2 separate regions of the Homo sapiens genome follow, and region 1 is linked to region 2. A link means that fine-mapping ties the variant in region 2 to the expression of a gene that starts in the linked region. Tissue or cell type: whole blood. Region 2 holds a variant in brackets; the other region holds the start of a gene. All regions are shown on one strand. Distances are between the middles of the regions.

Evidence for each region. PIP is the estimated chance that this variant, and not a neighbour inherited with it, causes the effect.
Region 1: DHRS9 starts here. The variant in region 2 is fine-mapped to the expression of DHRS9 in whole blood (TOPMed, PIP above 0.99).

The regions. Positions count from the first base shown.
Region 1 is chr2:169,066,267-169,074,453 of GRCh38, forward strand. DHRS9 (dehydrogenase/reductase 9) reads left to right here and starts at 3,297. Exons shown (of 5, transcript NM_001376924.1): 1 at 3,297-3,451.
Region 2 is chr2:169,103,593-169,111,779 of GRCh38, forward strand. No RefSeq gene overlaps it. Among named protein-coding and RNA genes, the nearest start is that of DHRS9, 38 kb to the left of the region's middle. RefSeq lists enhancers at 6,432-6,932, 6,933-7,433. The variant T/C (reference allele first, on the strand shown) is at 4,230.

The DNA.
Region 1 (8,187 bases), 37 kb before region 2:
CCACTTCATGAATCCCCGTGAGTTCTTTCCCACTGGATAGTACTTGCATATTACACAATCAGCTGCATCTAGCATCTGCTCTTAATTTCATTTGATATTTTATCATCTCAGTTAAGATTCTGGGAAAAAGAAGTTGCCTTCTTTTTGAAAGGGATTGAAAGAAACTAGGAAACTTGGCAGGAAGATCATTCTTAAGCCAGGAAAAAAATTTTTAATGCTCACATGTGAACATGTGATGGTCATACCAGAAGGAGCACCCACCTCCCTCCCTCTGTGACAGACACATTTTCTTAGCCTTCACCTTTCCTTCTTTCAAGTTGCTGAAAATCCACAGTGTTTCTGTTCATTTGTTACTTTCATTCTCACCTATCTTCTCTCTTGCTCCATCTACCAGAACAATAATTCCCCATATAATACTTCTCACTTCACTTTTCAACGCAGGACCTCTTGTTGGGTAAGCTAAAAGGATATGTGCTCTGTAAATAAGAAAAATCTTTATTCAAAGAATCTATCAAATGTTCCCATGACTCCATCTCTATTTGTATATCTAAAGATTGCATAGTAGAGAAAAACAAAAGATTAGCCCTGCTTCATCTTACAGCTGGGAGAGTCATGAAAGGCCAAATGGGTAACAAAGCTCCTGGTTTTGACCAAGCCTAGCCAAAGAAGCTACTCAAATGTCAAAGGCATTGTTTGTATAAAAAGGGAACCAAAGTACAGGTTCCCTTTACAGTAGAAATAAGAGAACTCCCTGTTGACAAAGGGAGGAGGAAGAAAATATAAAGTACACTTTTAAAACATGAAGTCTTCATAGCAGCTTATAGTCGTTCAGAGAAACATGTTCCACTGAGAATGACTTGAGAGAGAGGATTACATCATTATGCCAGAAGGAAGAAGCCACTGTGCATGCTCTATCACCAGCCTCACCCTCCTGGTCAGCCTTACAAGAGTGACACTGGATATACTCCAGAAGTTGGACCCACCACAGCCTGCACACTGGAGTAAGTGCTTTCCTCCAGTTGAAGCTCATCTTAGAATGATCTGTGACTTAGACCATCCCCAGAATGGTGTAGTTGCAGGAAGCCTAACGTATGTCTCCTGAGACAGCCTCAGATCTGAGTTTCCTCCTTATGTTTTGGTATTTGGAAAGGGGTGGAGAAGATACTCTTGGGTAGAAGTATGGGAGGCATACAGATTCAGAAGAAAAAGGATAACTCTATCTTTAGTGTGTTGTCTGTGGTGGCATCTAGCCTTACCACTGTATACTTACATTCCACCTACAAACATTAAAATAAAATGCACAGTGCACTCCTTTGTTTTAAAAAGGAACTAGGAAAAAACTCAAATGGCAATTTGGTTCCAGATTTTTTTTTTAATGTGATCTTTGATCTGAAGTCAATGTAGGATGAGTTCTGAACAAAGTAGCACTTTCAAAGGTTGTATATTAAAGAGGTGAAATGAAAGACAACTTGGCACTTGAGATATGAATTTGAATGTGTATATGGTTACAGTCTGGATAAGACACTGCTAACATGACTTCATTAACTGATCGCCTATGTGGGACCATTGGACAAGGAGAGGGGGTGTTCTGGCTGTGGTGCCATATACTGAAACTGAACCCATGAGTTGGGCCCACAGGAATTGAGGGACAAGCCAGATAGATGGCAAGAATTCTAATTTCCAATATGCAAATCAGTCTAAACATTTGACTTTTTTTAAGTCTATTTGGAAAGTTTTTGAAACACGGCTGCACTAGGCGAGTTCATTAAGTAGCAAAATTTTAACTATTGTTATAACTTTTTCTTTGCCCTTTTCAGTTAACACTGCATGACCACCCAGGTGCATGAGGCTCTCTTCTCCTCTTAGTGACAATAACAGGCTCACAGGAAGGGTTCAGTATTAATTATTTATACCTTACTTCATGTGGCTCTAAGTCAATGTATTGTCTATGAGGTTTTATATTTAAGCCATACTTATGAAATGCTAAAGAGGAAAAAGCATATTTAGCACATTTGGGGCACCCTAAATGTGAACCTGAGTAAATTTCAGTTTGTTTGTTTGTTTGTTTTTGTTTGTTTTGAGACGGAGTCTCACGCTGTTACCCAGGCTGGAGGGCAATGGCGCGATCTTGGCTCACACGCAACTTGGCCTCCCAGATTCAAGAGATTCTGTCTTAGCTTACCAAGTTGCTGGGATTACAGGTGCCCACCACCATGCCTGGCTAATTTTTTGTATTTTTAGTAGAGATGGGGTTTCACGATGTTGGCCAGGCTAGTCTCAAACTTCTGACCTCAAGTGATCCGCCCGCTTTGGCCTCCCAAAGTGGGTTTGTTGTTCTTTTAAAGAAAAAAGACCACTACTTATTTTAAAGGGTGATAGCAGTGTCCTGACTCTACCTAGACAGATATGTTCATTCATGTGCTCATTCCAGTTGAACCATAATAACTGCAATTTTCAAAGGAGGAATACAGAGTCTGGGAAATCAGAAGAGTATAGCAACAAACTGGTATACGAGGAAACTGAAAATGAAAAATCAGCAAAGTGGTATTTGTACCTGCCTGAGTGGCTACAGTGGTGAAGGTGAAGGGTGGCAGGCTAGATTAGCACCATCTCCTCCCCTCCTCGCCTGCGGCCTCAGTACTTTCCACTGTGGTCCCAGGATACGCCAGGTCAACTGTGATCAACTCTGACACAGACAAACTCTGGGAGGGGAGGAGGCATCCTTTCCTATTCTCAGCGGTCTCAGTTCCAGAGACCACTTTAGTAAGCTCTCCTTGTCATACCTTAAAACATAAATTAAGACCCATAAGTAATTCCAAAACCTCATTTTATTATGTTGTTTTTATCTCCTTGCTCGCCCATCTTAAAAAAAATGGTAACACCAATCTCAGAGACTGATTTCTCCTACTTATTCTCTTAGGAGGGAAGGAGTGTTAAATAAGCCAAGGCATGCTAACAGGAAGGAAAAAATGGAGATTATGAAGAATAATCACAATTTGAAAACTATTAAAACCACGCACCAGGCAGTTTACAAAATATTTATTTCTTTGTTATATTATTTCTGCTGCTGAATTTGGTCAAGAGATTGTACTAATCATAAAATGAATGTTATTGATCATTTTAAAGTCTCTTCTAAAAGTAGCTAAATTTATACTGCTGATTCCTTTTGAAACATGCGACCTACAGCTTCTTGGCTTTTATGAGCTATTCAAGAGATATTTAGTCATCACGTTGTGTCACAATGGGAGTGACTCACAGAGCAAGGAGAGAACCTGAGGATTCCTCACACATGTAGTACTCAGAGCTCTACGGAAACCCAGGCACCTCGACCTCAAGAGGATCAGCCTGGCCAGGGTGGCACAACTCTTCCTTCCCCGTGCACAGCAGGAAAGCTGCCATCAGCTGAGCAAGTCCACCAACAGTTTCTGTGTCCCACTTCATCTTTAATAAGGTAACTGATGACAGTTTTGTCATTTATTCTTTTATTTATCAAGTCAATCTAAACTTTCTTTGATTTTCCTCACTCTTGCAGAATGAATCGGTGGTCTTTCAAGCTGTGGTCAATGTTGCTACTTCTTTTAATGTAACACATTAGAACCCAGTGATGGGAGCTGGGTCCATCTCACCATAGAAATGACCTCGGTGTGACCTGGGATCTTGCCTTGAACTCCTCCAGGACTCTCTTTGAATGTCCTTTAGCACCCTAGTGTCCCAATTCAATTCATATTTTATTTTCTCTGTGCCTTCTTGACACTATCTGTGAATCTTATGATTAATTGGAAACTGGAGGGGGAAGTCTCCAAAAAGCACAGGATTCTTAGATGAGTTTCTTACTGAAGCAGCAGATTCTCTGTCAACTGCAGGTCTGATCTGTTTGTCTGTCCGCTTTATCAATATTATCAGATGTAAGTTTACATGAATACACACACATATTCACTAAACTGAGGGGAAAAAATGCCTTGTAGGTCATAAAAAAGCAGGGAAATTCCCAACAATTCATATTTGATCCCTGGATCCAGGGGTGGCAGCAATAAGCCTGCTTTAGATATTTACTCCCCATTTTATGATCCGGTGGTTTGGTTTTTCAAATGATGATATGGCTCCTTTCGCAATGACTTGATGTTTAGGAGGTGTGCTTCAATAAATACATTTTAAAATCAACAATCAAGTTAGAGTTGTACAAATGGCTCTGAAATGTCCCACTACACTGTTAGACCAAGGGCACAGATTGTGCTTCTGTACTATTTATCCTAGTATCCCTCGGCATATATTAACTGCTCTAAAAATCTCCTTGGCTACACGCTGCATCAAATCAAAGTTAAATGTTATACCACCTTTCTATTCTATTTTTAATATTCAAAGAGGGTGCTCAGATTTTAGAACAAATTTCAATGTTTAAGTACACACAAAAAAATCATTAACTCATATATTTCAAGAGTAGGAAATGGGAACTGGTGTTAAAACTCTTATAACAAATGTCACTGTCTTAAGGGACAGTGTTTAAAAACGCATACCTGGCCGGGCGCGGTGGCTCATGCCTGTAATCCCAGCACTTTGGGAGGCCGAGGCCGGCGGATCACAAGGTCAGGAGATCGAGACCATCCTGGCTAACACGGTGAAACCTGGTCTCTACTAAAAATACAAAAAATTAGCTAGGCGTGGCAGCGTGCGCCTGTAGTCCCAGCTACTTGGGAGGCTGAGGCAGGAGAATGGTGTGAACCCGGGAGGTGGAGCTTGCAGTGAGCTGAGATCACGCCACTGCACTCCAGCCTGGGCGACAGAGCGAGACTCCGTCTCAAAAAAAAAAAACAACAACAACAAAAAACTCAGACCTTTTCTTCTGCTCAAAGATCACTGTGGCTGAAATATACTGAAGTTTTAAACACACTTTTGGAACCTATACATATGTTCTATGTTCTAAGCTTTCCTTAAAGCCTTGTGACTACAAATGATAACTGTACACAACATATAATCTTTCCCAGATAGCAATTGTTATGCAGTGACCATAAATAAAGTAATCATAGCTTTAACAATAATTTGTAACCTGCTAATACTGTCAGGAAACATTGTCAAAATAATAAACCTAGGAGGGACTTGGGATAATTAATGAATAGTTAGGGATGTGATGGTGAATTATAATTTAAACGTTTTGAAGGAAGGCAAAAGAAAATCAGAGATGCTTTTATCCTTAGAACTAAAAATGCAAAATGTAAATCCAGCAGATCTTCCCTATTTGAGGCAGTTGGTACACCTCTGCTAGGAGGGAGGGAAGCTACATCCTGAGGAGGCTGTCTGAGTGAATCTGTAGTGGAAGTACACACGAACTCCATGCCTCGCTGTCCCAGTACCCAAAGCACAGTCTGGCTGCCAAGGATTACCTCCTGCCCTCAGGGAAGCAGGAATCAAGGGCAAATGTAACTAACCAGAGGAGGAGCTTCTTCATCCATTGAGTAAGGGAACTTACCCTCCCACGACGATAAATACCAACTCAACTATATCATCAGCAGCATAATAATTATTATAATTGTTATTTCAGTCAGACTCTCAAAAAAGCATTCGTTGCTTAATGCAAGCACATTTAATGTAGGGTCCCTTGGTGCCATTAAAAAATTTTTTTTTCAGATTTCTGGGTGGACCATTTGAACACATTTCTCACAGAAACATAATTTTTTAGTTTATGTCAATAGGTTCCAGTGTTCATTTTTTTTTAAGTGTGGAAGAAATCTCTAAAAGCCACCTGGGTTTTTTTTTTTTTTTTAAACAAAACAAAACAAAAACCAGTTTTTTTTTACTTCAATGAAAAGGAAAAAATGAAAAAGGAATGTTGTGTTAAGTCAACCGGGTTTACAATATTCAAATATACAAGAGGCATACATGTTCAGTGGCTTTCAGTATTCAGAAAGCCATGCAAGAGAACTCCAAAAAGAGAATACTTTAGAAAATCATTGCTCAATGTTTTCTATTTGATGTATTTTGGTAAACAACATAGTTGTTGATTCAACTTGGGCCACAATTGCAACACATTGGAAGTAAATAAAGATTCTACAAACTCCTGACAGTGTGGTTGACTAGCTTTGGTATCGCTTTCTAAAAGGAAACACTTCATGAAGTTATGTGGAAATAAAATCAACTGGTCTGGGAGGAACTATCTAGAAAGAACTCTACATTGCTTATAAAAAGTATACCTCACAATAATATTGAGATATTTTCTGTTCTTTTTTTTAAACTGTGTCATTTATTTTTAAGAAACAGAGGAAGGTGAATAAGAGAAGTGAAATTAAATAATCCTATTTTAACTTTTTTACTAGGAAAACAAACTCAGGAAGAAAAAGAAAAGCAGAAGTGATCAAGGAGAGCGCTCGAGTTGCAATATTTTCCTTTGGCTGCTGACAGGCAGTTACTATAAAGCATTGTGCATGGTGTATGAAAGACAAAACTAGTTCTCCTTTCTTGGTTTCTTTTGAATCTTTGTGATATGGTAGAGAAAGTTTGATAAAGTGTTCTTGTGCCTGCTGTCGACTGATAATGTGTTCATCTCTTTGCAGTTCTTCCTTCTCTTTCACACAGTTTAGAGTTCAGAGAGTTTTAGTTCTGGTCACTCTCTGGCAAGTGACCATAGTTATGACCTCTACTCTACACCAGAAATATCTTGACAATTACATGAGATAAATATTACATAAACACTTCCCAAAACTTTGTAATGTTATCAAAATTGGAAGTGTGAATATTATGTATTATTATAATTGCTATCATCCTTTTGCCCCAGCGATTCAGAGGTCTCAAAGATTAATCCAATTATCACTAGAACTCTGGAGCTACAGTGGAGACTTCCTTCTTTCCTTCCTTTTTTCCTTCTTTGCTGTACAACATTTACTAAACATCAACATAATGCCAAGTATCATACAAGGAACTGGTAATGTAGAGAAGTATATGCAGAGCCCAGAGTTGAGTGGGAATACAGACTGCAGTGGTAGAACAGAATGGTCTGGGTATCAGTCCCGGAATTGCCACTACAACTGTAGCTGGAGCCAATTAAACAGAGCTTCTGAATGTGTTTCCTCCTCTATACAGTGAAGATAATTTTGTCGTAAGGTGTAAATAAGATAAATATTTATAGATCCTAGGAAACGGCCTACAACATGTTAGGCACTCAATGAACCATAGCAGTTATTATCATTCCTCCCTGACTTGGTCAACCAGGAACTTGAGAATCATAGATTTGCTAGGAGGATATTTTGAATTCTGTAGGGTCAGTTGGCCACCCACCAAAGGGTACCCCCAGAGGAGCTGGGGGTCAACAGCATGGGGTAAACCTTGAGGGAGGGAACAGATGGGAGGTGATTGGATGAAGAGATTTGGGTGAGGACACAGAGCCAAACCATATCAGCCTCTTATCCTCCTGATGACAAAAAGACATTTTAAAATATTTATATAGAGGGAAATTAATGCTTGCAGCAGCAGGATATGAGTAATTTTTATAAGTAACCCAACTTTTCCATGAGGCCATTAAAAAAAGAAACTCATCAATGTGATACTACCAAGGAACCAATGACTAAGTTTCCAGAAAAGTAGTTCTAGTGCTATGATATTCTGGACTCCCAACACTAGGAAGTTCTAGAACAGTGGTTCTAAACTGGGGGATATTTTGTCCTCCAGGGGACATTTGGCATTATCTGGAGACATTTTTGGTTTTCACAACTTGGGGAGGGGTGCTACTGCTGACTAGAGAGTAGAGGCCAGAGATGCCACTAAACATGCTAAATGCACAGGACTGACCCCACAACAAATAATTACCTGGCCCAAAATATCAAAATTACTCAGTTAGAGGAATCAATGCCTAAATATGAGCAATACATAGAGCAGACTGCCTCATAAAGTGAAAGTGATTCACCCTGCCATGAAGATAACAAAGTTCTTACTGTAACGGCAGACATTAGGTCACTTCACCCAGTACTCTCCAAGGTAGATGTTGTATTTCTACTTTACAGGTAGGAAAATGGAGGCTAAGAAAAGTTAATTTGTCCGAGGGCCCTCTGATGATAGTGAAACTGGGATGGAACCTCTGCCTGCTTGCTTCTGAGGTCTGGGCTCCTAACTACTGCTCTACTGCCTCGAGCCAAGAGATTTACGCCCTATTAAGCAATTTGTTGTGCGATAAATTGGAAGACACAGCAGATAAGCAAACAA
Region 2 (8,187 bases):
AGAGGGCACAGAGTGGCAGAGCCAGAGTCATGGGTGGAAGTTACACAGAGTTCAAGTTCAGCACCATAGAGGGGATTTTTGTACCACTAGGAGTTGGATCAAAGGGCAGCTGCCATTGGCAGGCAAGCACAGGAAGGACCACCCTTGGAATGGGGATGCCGGAGAAGGGAGTCAAGCAATATGGGGTTGCATTTGCTGACTTGGATGACATTTGAGGATTCTATGGCTGGACAGGGTCTTTCTTCAAATATGGTACATACCAGCATAAAGAGACCTAACCTTTCTAATCACTAAAACCGTGGGATGTAACAAGCCAAATATCTCTTGCTTCAGTTTTCATGAGGCCTGGAATTTCATTTCTTCAAGACTTGAAAGAAGCGCCTTAGCTTCTGATGAGGAGAAAGGAGGCAGCTGCTGAAAGGAGAGGGAATACACATCAAGATCAACTAAAGCTAAATTTCAGATCTTGCCCAGAAGCAGCCCCGAGGATTAGCACAGCGAAAAGGAGGCTGGAAGGATTCTTGGGGCAACCTGCAACCTGGGCATCCATAGCTAGTTTAATTGTGTGGGGGTGCAGTTGTCAGAAACATGTGCTCACTTCTTAAAACAGGTGTTATTAATGGATCCAGTATAAATTGAACAACAAAACTAGGAAAGAATATACAGTGAAATCTTAGTCTTCCTCTTCCCAGGCCTCTGGTCCCTAGCTAGGACTTTCTCCTGTGTCATTGCTGAGATGCATATATATAGACAATGTATAGATAACCTTTTCACATACTTTTTACACAAACGGTAGCATAGCTAGACTCCACATTTTCTCTACCTTGCTCTAAAACGTTCAAATTTTAATGAACAAAAGACTAGGAATCCTAAAAATAATGTTCACAGTCATCATTTTCAAATCTGGCCCTCCTTAGGCAATAGATGGCTATGATTCCATCAGTTTTACTTCTTCAGTGCCTGACTTAACCAACATATTGTCAACGAAGTAACAAATACAGACAGGCTCTCTAAAAGAAAATGATGTTTATTTGGGAGTAGGGCATTGCAACGGGAATGCAGGTGCCATAGTAAACTATGTGTGCATTCAGGGAGGTAAAAAAAAAAAAAAAAAGACAAGGAGTTTTAAAGGAAAAAATGAGAAGGATACATAATTATTTTGAAATGATTACCTTTGGCTACAAAGATCAATAACAAGGGTGATCAATAACAAGGTCTGCCAGTCTGAGGTTGGGCAGACAGTTCCTGGGAAGATGTCTTTGCAGAAGTATTTTTTGTGTAAGGTTGTGATGGCCTTTGTGCAAGGTTGTGGTTGTTGCAGTCTTTTATGTTAGACTTTTTTAAAATCAGGCATGCAAACATGAGAACTCTCTCTTCACAGCCTTCATAGCTCTATTTGTGAGGGTTTTTTTTTTTTTTTAACACAAGTGACTCCATTTTGGTTGTGACAACTTCACAACATGAAGTCATTCAATATCGATGCTGTTATTCCTTCATTAAATACATCTTGAAGTTAATATTCCCTATGCTCTTGTTTCCTCTCTAATTTATTGCAGCAATTATATTTACCCTGGATAAAATAAGAAAAAAGATAATTGTATTGACTGTAAGCAATTCTTATGAGTGTAATGCCATTTATCAACAATAGCATTTATAAGTGGAATCACCAATCCATTAATAAATCATTCTGAAGGTAAGTTACTCCTCTAAGTAAAGTTAATTAATTATTTCAGGCAACTATTTAGAAAATATGACCTTCCCTTTGCTGATCTAATTCCTGAAGAGTGTTTGATTTACTAAGAGTCAGTTCCATGATACCAGCAGTCAAGGCTTCTAAAAGTAAGACATTGATTGAAACTTTCCCTTTATTTATTTCTTAAACCTGTTCTGTTTTTTAAATGAGTACCAGAGATCCACTTACTTGACTATTTGCAAAAAGTAGCAAATGAGGCATTAACAAAGTTGCCCTGTCTGATTCTAAAACCTAAACCTCTTTGACAGTTCGCTGTTAAGTAAACCACTTCCCTGCTGTGAGGAAATGGAGTCATCACACTCATTATTACCTTGAAATGACAGGGGAGCTGTTATGGGTTGAAATATATCACCCCAGCAAAAAATATATGTTGGAGTCCTAACCCCTACTACCTCAGAATGTGACCTTATTTGGAGACAGCCTCTTTACAGAGGTAATCAAGTTAAAATGAGGTCATTAGTGTGGACCCTAATCCAATATGACATATGCCCTTATAAAAAGGAAAATTTGGACACAGACACATAGGGGGAAGATAACATGAAGAGACGCATGAGAAGATAGCCATCTGCAAGCCAAGGACAGAGGCCTGGAACAGATCCTTCCCTCACAGCCCTCAAAGGAACCAACCTGCCAACACCTTGATTTCTGAATTTTAGCTTCCAGGAGTGTGAGACAACATTTTTCTGTTGTTTAAGCCCCACACTCTGTGATCCTTCATTATGGAGCCATGCGATGATGGGGCTATGGCATTGGCTTGGCAGCATGATGGAGTGAAACACTCCTCAGGAGTTCATCTAGCCCATCTTCTTGCCTCTGAGCATCTTTCCTGGATGAGTACTTTAAAAAAATGGTGAGAAATCTGTCTAGAAGTGCCTCATAGGTGGTCAAGAACAGAGACTCTTGGATCGAGCTCCTGGGGTCAAAACCCATCTTTGCCCTTAGCATTGGCTTGACCATTGGCATATTACTTAATTTCTCTTAGTTTTCTCATCTGTATAATGGGGGTGGGTGTACCTTGGACAGTTACAAGAATTAAACAAGTAAATGCATGTCAAATACAGCATAGTGCTTTTAATGTATTGTAGCTATGAGTATTATTCATTTTGTTGGCACTTTTTCAAATTAGCTTAGGTTCATGGCAGAACCTAGCTATAAGTTGGCCCGCACCTTGATCTGTTATTTGAATGGATTGGCCAAGGTCGAAGACAAGGACAAGAGCAACACTCTGACTTTTGTTCTTCCCTATTGTATAAGTTAGGTGTAACGAGAAGAGATCCTCAGCAGAACACTCAGAATGATGAGAGGAGATCTGAGACCTGTGGGGAAAACAACCACAACAAACATCCATTCATCACCATTTTCTCAGCACCATTGTGGGGAGTCCTACCCATGGCTACAGAGGAATGGCCCAAGATGGAAGCCTGGCCTGGCAATGCCTTCAGTTACCAGAAGGATGTTACTATACATAGTGGCAAAGTTGCAAGGCCCTTCAGGTCGCCAACACTCCTCCTAATTTCAAAGAAATTACCAGCAGGTAATTTCAAAGAAAAGGGAATAGAGGCCCTGAAAGGTGAGGAGACTTAAATAATACTATGTCAGATTCAGGACAGAGCAAGAGTTGGATACGAAGAAATGGGCTTCCTCTATTGCGGGAAAGATAAGAGAGTTCAGTTACACAGCAGGAAATCTGACCCCAGAGACTGACCAGAATAGAGAACTAAGGGCATGACACCCTCAGCCCTGTAAAGTTGTAGAAATAAGATGATAATGATGATGATAATGGTTATTACCAAATGTTGAGCAACTGTTCAATAACAGCACTAATTGTGTGTTCATTGGCTAATTGTTAATTAAACTGTGTTAACTGTTTTGCATGCGTGGTTACCTCATTTAATCTTTCTACAACAACCTTGCAAGACTATGAAGAGGAGCAGAGCTCAGATAGGGTATGAAACTTATCCAGAATCTCAGAGCTTAAGGGATAGCAGTTGGGACCACCAACCTCTACTTCAGACAGCCTCCTGCAGGCAGCAACCAGCAACAGATGCCGCTAAGGGCCCTTCTGGCTCTGTGGTTGTATGTTTTTAGAATATCTAAGTCACAGCCATGAGAAGTTTTATCTTTTATCAGTGAAGTCAATTCACTTGGTCATATAGAGTTTTGAACTATGAAAACTATTATTATAAAAAATAATTACCACAATCACTTTGGAGAAAGAACAAGTTCTCATACCAAATCTTTGATGAATTTGCGTCTGATGTTTTCTGTTTTTTTATTTTCTAGAGACAGGTTCTTGCTATGTTGCTTAGGCTGGTCTCTAACTCCTAGGCTCAAGTAATCCTGCCACCTCAGTTTGCAGGCAGCTGGGACTATAGGTATGCACCATCCCCGGCTTGCATCTGGCATTGATTGTTTCTGTGTTACCATAAACTTGCAGAAATACTTGCTTTTCCGCAAGGTAATGATAGCAGCACTT[T/C]CCCTTGCACTTTTCTAGCACAGTGTAATGAAATGCAATAGAAACCACAGGAAATACTGTGGTCAGGTTTTGAACCTGAGCTATCACCCTCAACCTGAACACTGTGACAAAGGTACTGTGAATTTTTTTTTAAAAGGGAGGTGACATAGTGAGGAGGTCCTGGTCCTTTTTTAGTGTCAAATCAGCCTGGGCATGATGAGAAACACCATTGGAGGAAGACTGAGGTACCTGACTCATGGCTGTTGGTTACCAATGCCTCCACTTAAACCCAAACTAAGAAAAAAACAGGGGGACCCCACCTAGGAGGCCCTCTCAGCTCCCAGAAGCAGTCTGATGGAGAAGGGATGTGATAGGAGGCCTGCCCTTGTGAGAACTGACATATTTCCTACACTTAGCATTTTATTTGGCTCCAAGTTAGGTGACAAGCAGATCCTAAGTGCCTTCTGTTTTCAAAGCCAAGTAGAGATTGCATAACATCTCTATATCTTATCCCTAGATGGTTAAAGTACCGATTGCTCTCTCATTTCAGCAGGAAGTGAAGTAAGACCACCTACATTTCTGTAAATTGCCAAGGAAGCTTGCAAAAGGTACAGTATGTACCCAAAATAAGTTCATACAGAAAGAAAGTGTGAATGAATAACAGCAGAAAGATATATCCTTTGTTGGATACATTTTATGTAGATATGTGCTATATGCATCATCTAATATAATCTTCTCAACGACCTTATGTGGTAAGTGCCACAATGATGCCTCATTTTACAGATGGAAAAAATAGAGATGTGAGAGAGGTAAGTGTTGTGCCCAAAGACACACAGATGCATATGTACACAGGGGACTAAACTGGGACTCAGCTGTCTGCCTTGTCAGACACTTGTGGGCCTCTCCATCAACCTGTCTCTTCCCACACACAAAGCGACTTTTCAAAATGACCTATTCACATGTTCTAATTCACTTCCCTTTCTTGTAAGCATTTAAGCCTGCAGCAAAAGCAGCTGTCTGTCAACTATTTTCTTTTTTTGGGTAAGCCCACATTTACCTGTGCTACCTATGTTACCAAGAATCCCTCTTTTCTCCTTCCATAGTAAAAATAGAAGACAGAAGAGTATTTTCTAATTAATCCCAACTCTTCTGCAATAGAAAAGTGGCCCCAAAGAAGTTGAAAGGAAAAGAAAATTGAAAGCTAAAAGGTTTTGAGATTTGTTAGGAAAACATTTTGACATTACACTGGAGTGGGTCACTGCGAAAACTGATCCACGACTTTTAGTGAAGCTAGAAGCAAGACATGGCTTGTCCTGGTCTGGAGGTTCTGTGCCAGCCATCCCAGGGAAGGTAGACCCCTATTAGTGAGTCACCTCACTCGGCCCGATTGGCAGCCCAGGCTCCAAGGCTACAGCCTAACAGTTTCTCGTAATTGTCAAAGAGCAAATGGCCACATCTAAGCTGGAAATGGTTGCATGAGCTATTTTAGGGTAAACCTTAAGATTTACTTTGAAAAATCCATTAAAACATCCAAAAACACACCAAAAAAAATCCTCTCTATATTTTTATAGACAGACATGGCATATTCATGAACACAGCCCATGGAAGCAGTTTCAGATTTCGGATGAGAGACAGCCAACAGGCAGAGGGGTCTAACGTTTGCTGAGAGTGGCAGGCACTTCACAGATGCTGTCTTTACTCTCACAGGATTCTCCTTATCACCCTGAAATAACACTTATTCCTGCCACCATTTTGAAATTATCGCCATCAATAAGGTTAAGTGCTTAGTGCAGGGTCACGCTACTGGTTAATGGCTAAGTTAGGAGTTGAACCCTAGTCTCTTTAACTCCCAAATCCAACCTCTTTCCACTGCGTGAACTTGGTCTCCTCTGAATATTCGGTGGGTAAAGAAGTCCTGGACACAGATCACTCTCCCTCCCAGTGGTTGTGGTCTGGATGCAGCTTCCAGGGGACTGGACAAGCTGCTTCCTGAGCGGGCTCCCCCTCCCCACTTCCATCCCTCCCCGCAACACCCTGGCCCAGGGAATGAGTGAAAATCAGTTGAGATTCCTCTCCTTATTCCCGCACCTGGGCTCAATTTTTTGCCAGGATTAGAGCACGCAAGCTCAGTGCTCTCAATTGGACACTAGGGGGCGCCCTATGCCCACAAAATACCTGGGATCCCAGTAAGCGTCCCGCAGCCCCTGTTTGGTCATATTGGAAAGGAACAAGTCCGTCCTCTAAGAAGTTTCACTTAAATGGACCAAAATCTACCATGGTTTGAAAGAAACCTGGTTAAATTACTGGGATTATCTAGTAGGCAAGCTGTTTTGGACAACCTAAAGCCAACATACTCCTAGTTCAGTAGTGCTATGACAATACTGAACATATAAAAGGACAGGTCCCCACTCCACTGTCTGATGGAAAACCGCCATCCTCGCAGCCCAGCCATTGCTAAGGTCTAGGATAACCCGGAGTAACCAGAACACAGTCGATCAATGATAAACGTAATAAAAAGCCAATTGATCAAAAATACTCCAAGGTATACAAGAAAAATAGCCCCCATATCCAAAGCGCTGCCCATCTCCCGCGCCTCAGTTCGCTGCATTTGTTCACCTTTGTGGAGAGGGAACAGGCATGGGTGAAGTTGGCCACTTGGAGAAGCTGTTGTTTGTTGCACCCAGGAAGCCCAGAGAGCAGCAGAAAGAAGGAGCCGTGTGCTGTCATTTGGTGAAGCCTAGGGCAGAGGCCCCAGGTGCCCGCCTCTGCGCTGAGGCCTTTCAAAGCTGTGCTCTTGGCAACAGCCTTTGAAATAACTGGGTGCTGGCAACACAGGCTTGGCATTAATATGCAAATAAGAATACTTCAGGCTCCCACTTCATGCTTTTGGATCGTTTTAAAAATCCAGCCACTTACCATGACTAACATAAAATAAAGGGGAAAAAAAAAGTGGTACGACCTTCGCTTGGTTTCTCCCACCGACCTCCTTGTGCTGGAGCCAAGCACTTTTCAAACCAGAGAGAGATAGGGCTGGGGTCTCAACTAGAAGCAGGGACCGCTTAGGGCTAAGGATATTTTCACCTCCCCTTTCTAACAAAAGCTTTGGGATGAATAATAGGCACCACTCAGCTCCATCAATCAACCTCAGTTGCTCTATTTTCATTGCTACCGAGATGTATAAAAAGCTAAAGTTTGCTACAAAGCCCCCATCGAGGCCTTCAGGAAATCCCGGGGAAGCTTACTGCGGGGATGGCTGTGAGCTTGCCAGGCGGCGATTGTGCACATCGTTTCCTTACAGCCTCCTTCCTGCCGCTCTGCCTTCCGTGCCTCTTCCTTTGTTTGGCTGCTCGCCTGAGATGGGCCTGCAAGGAGACGCCCCAGAGGCAAGCACGTCTCTATAATAAGATGTGACGCGAGTTTGGGGAATTTGCTGGCTATACATCATTATAAAAACGAATTCTACATCATTATCCGTTGCTTTTCTGAGACAGGAACGTGAGCGGTAAGGCTCTCCTGTCCCTAGCGCTCTGAGAACAAGGGCAAGCACAGAGCAGGTGTTGACTAGCCAACCTGCCAGTGGCACTAGCAAAGTGCCCTGCCAGTGGGAGAGGGACAATCTCAATACAACCTGAATCAGCTGTCAAACTAAGCCTACTACAAACAGCTGAATGGGGAAGAAACAAACAACACTTGTTGAAGTCCTTAGAAGATGAATTACATCTGTTTCAAAATTCCTGGCACCCTCTAAGAGGAATCAGAGTTCATGGGCATTTCTTTGCCTTGGTATCCTCAGAGAGCAGGGGACTTCGAGCTTTTGCTGTAGGGATAGTGCCATGAGATGAAGAGCTGGAAACAGGGGAGAGACTATGTTTTAACTGATAGCACGGAACCAGGAAGAGGTAGCCTTGCATCAAATGGAATGGGATGACAATACTAACATGGATAAAAAAGAAACCCTCCCAGGTTCCACCTCTGCATG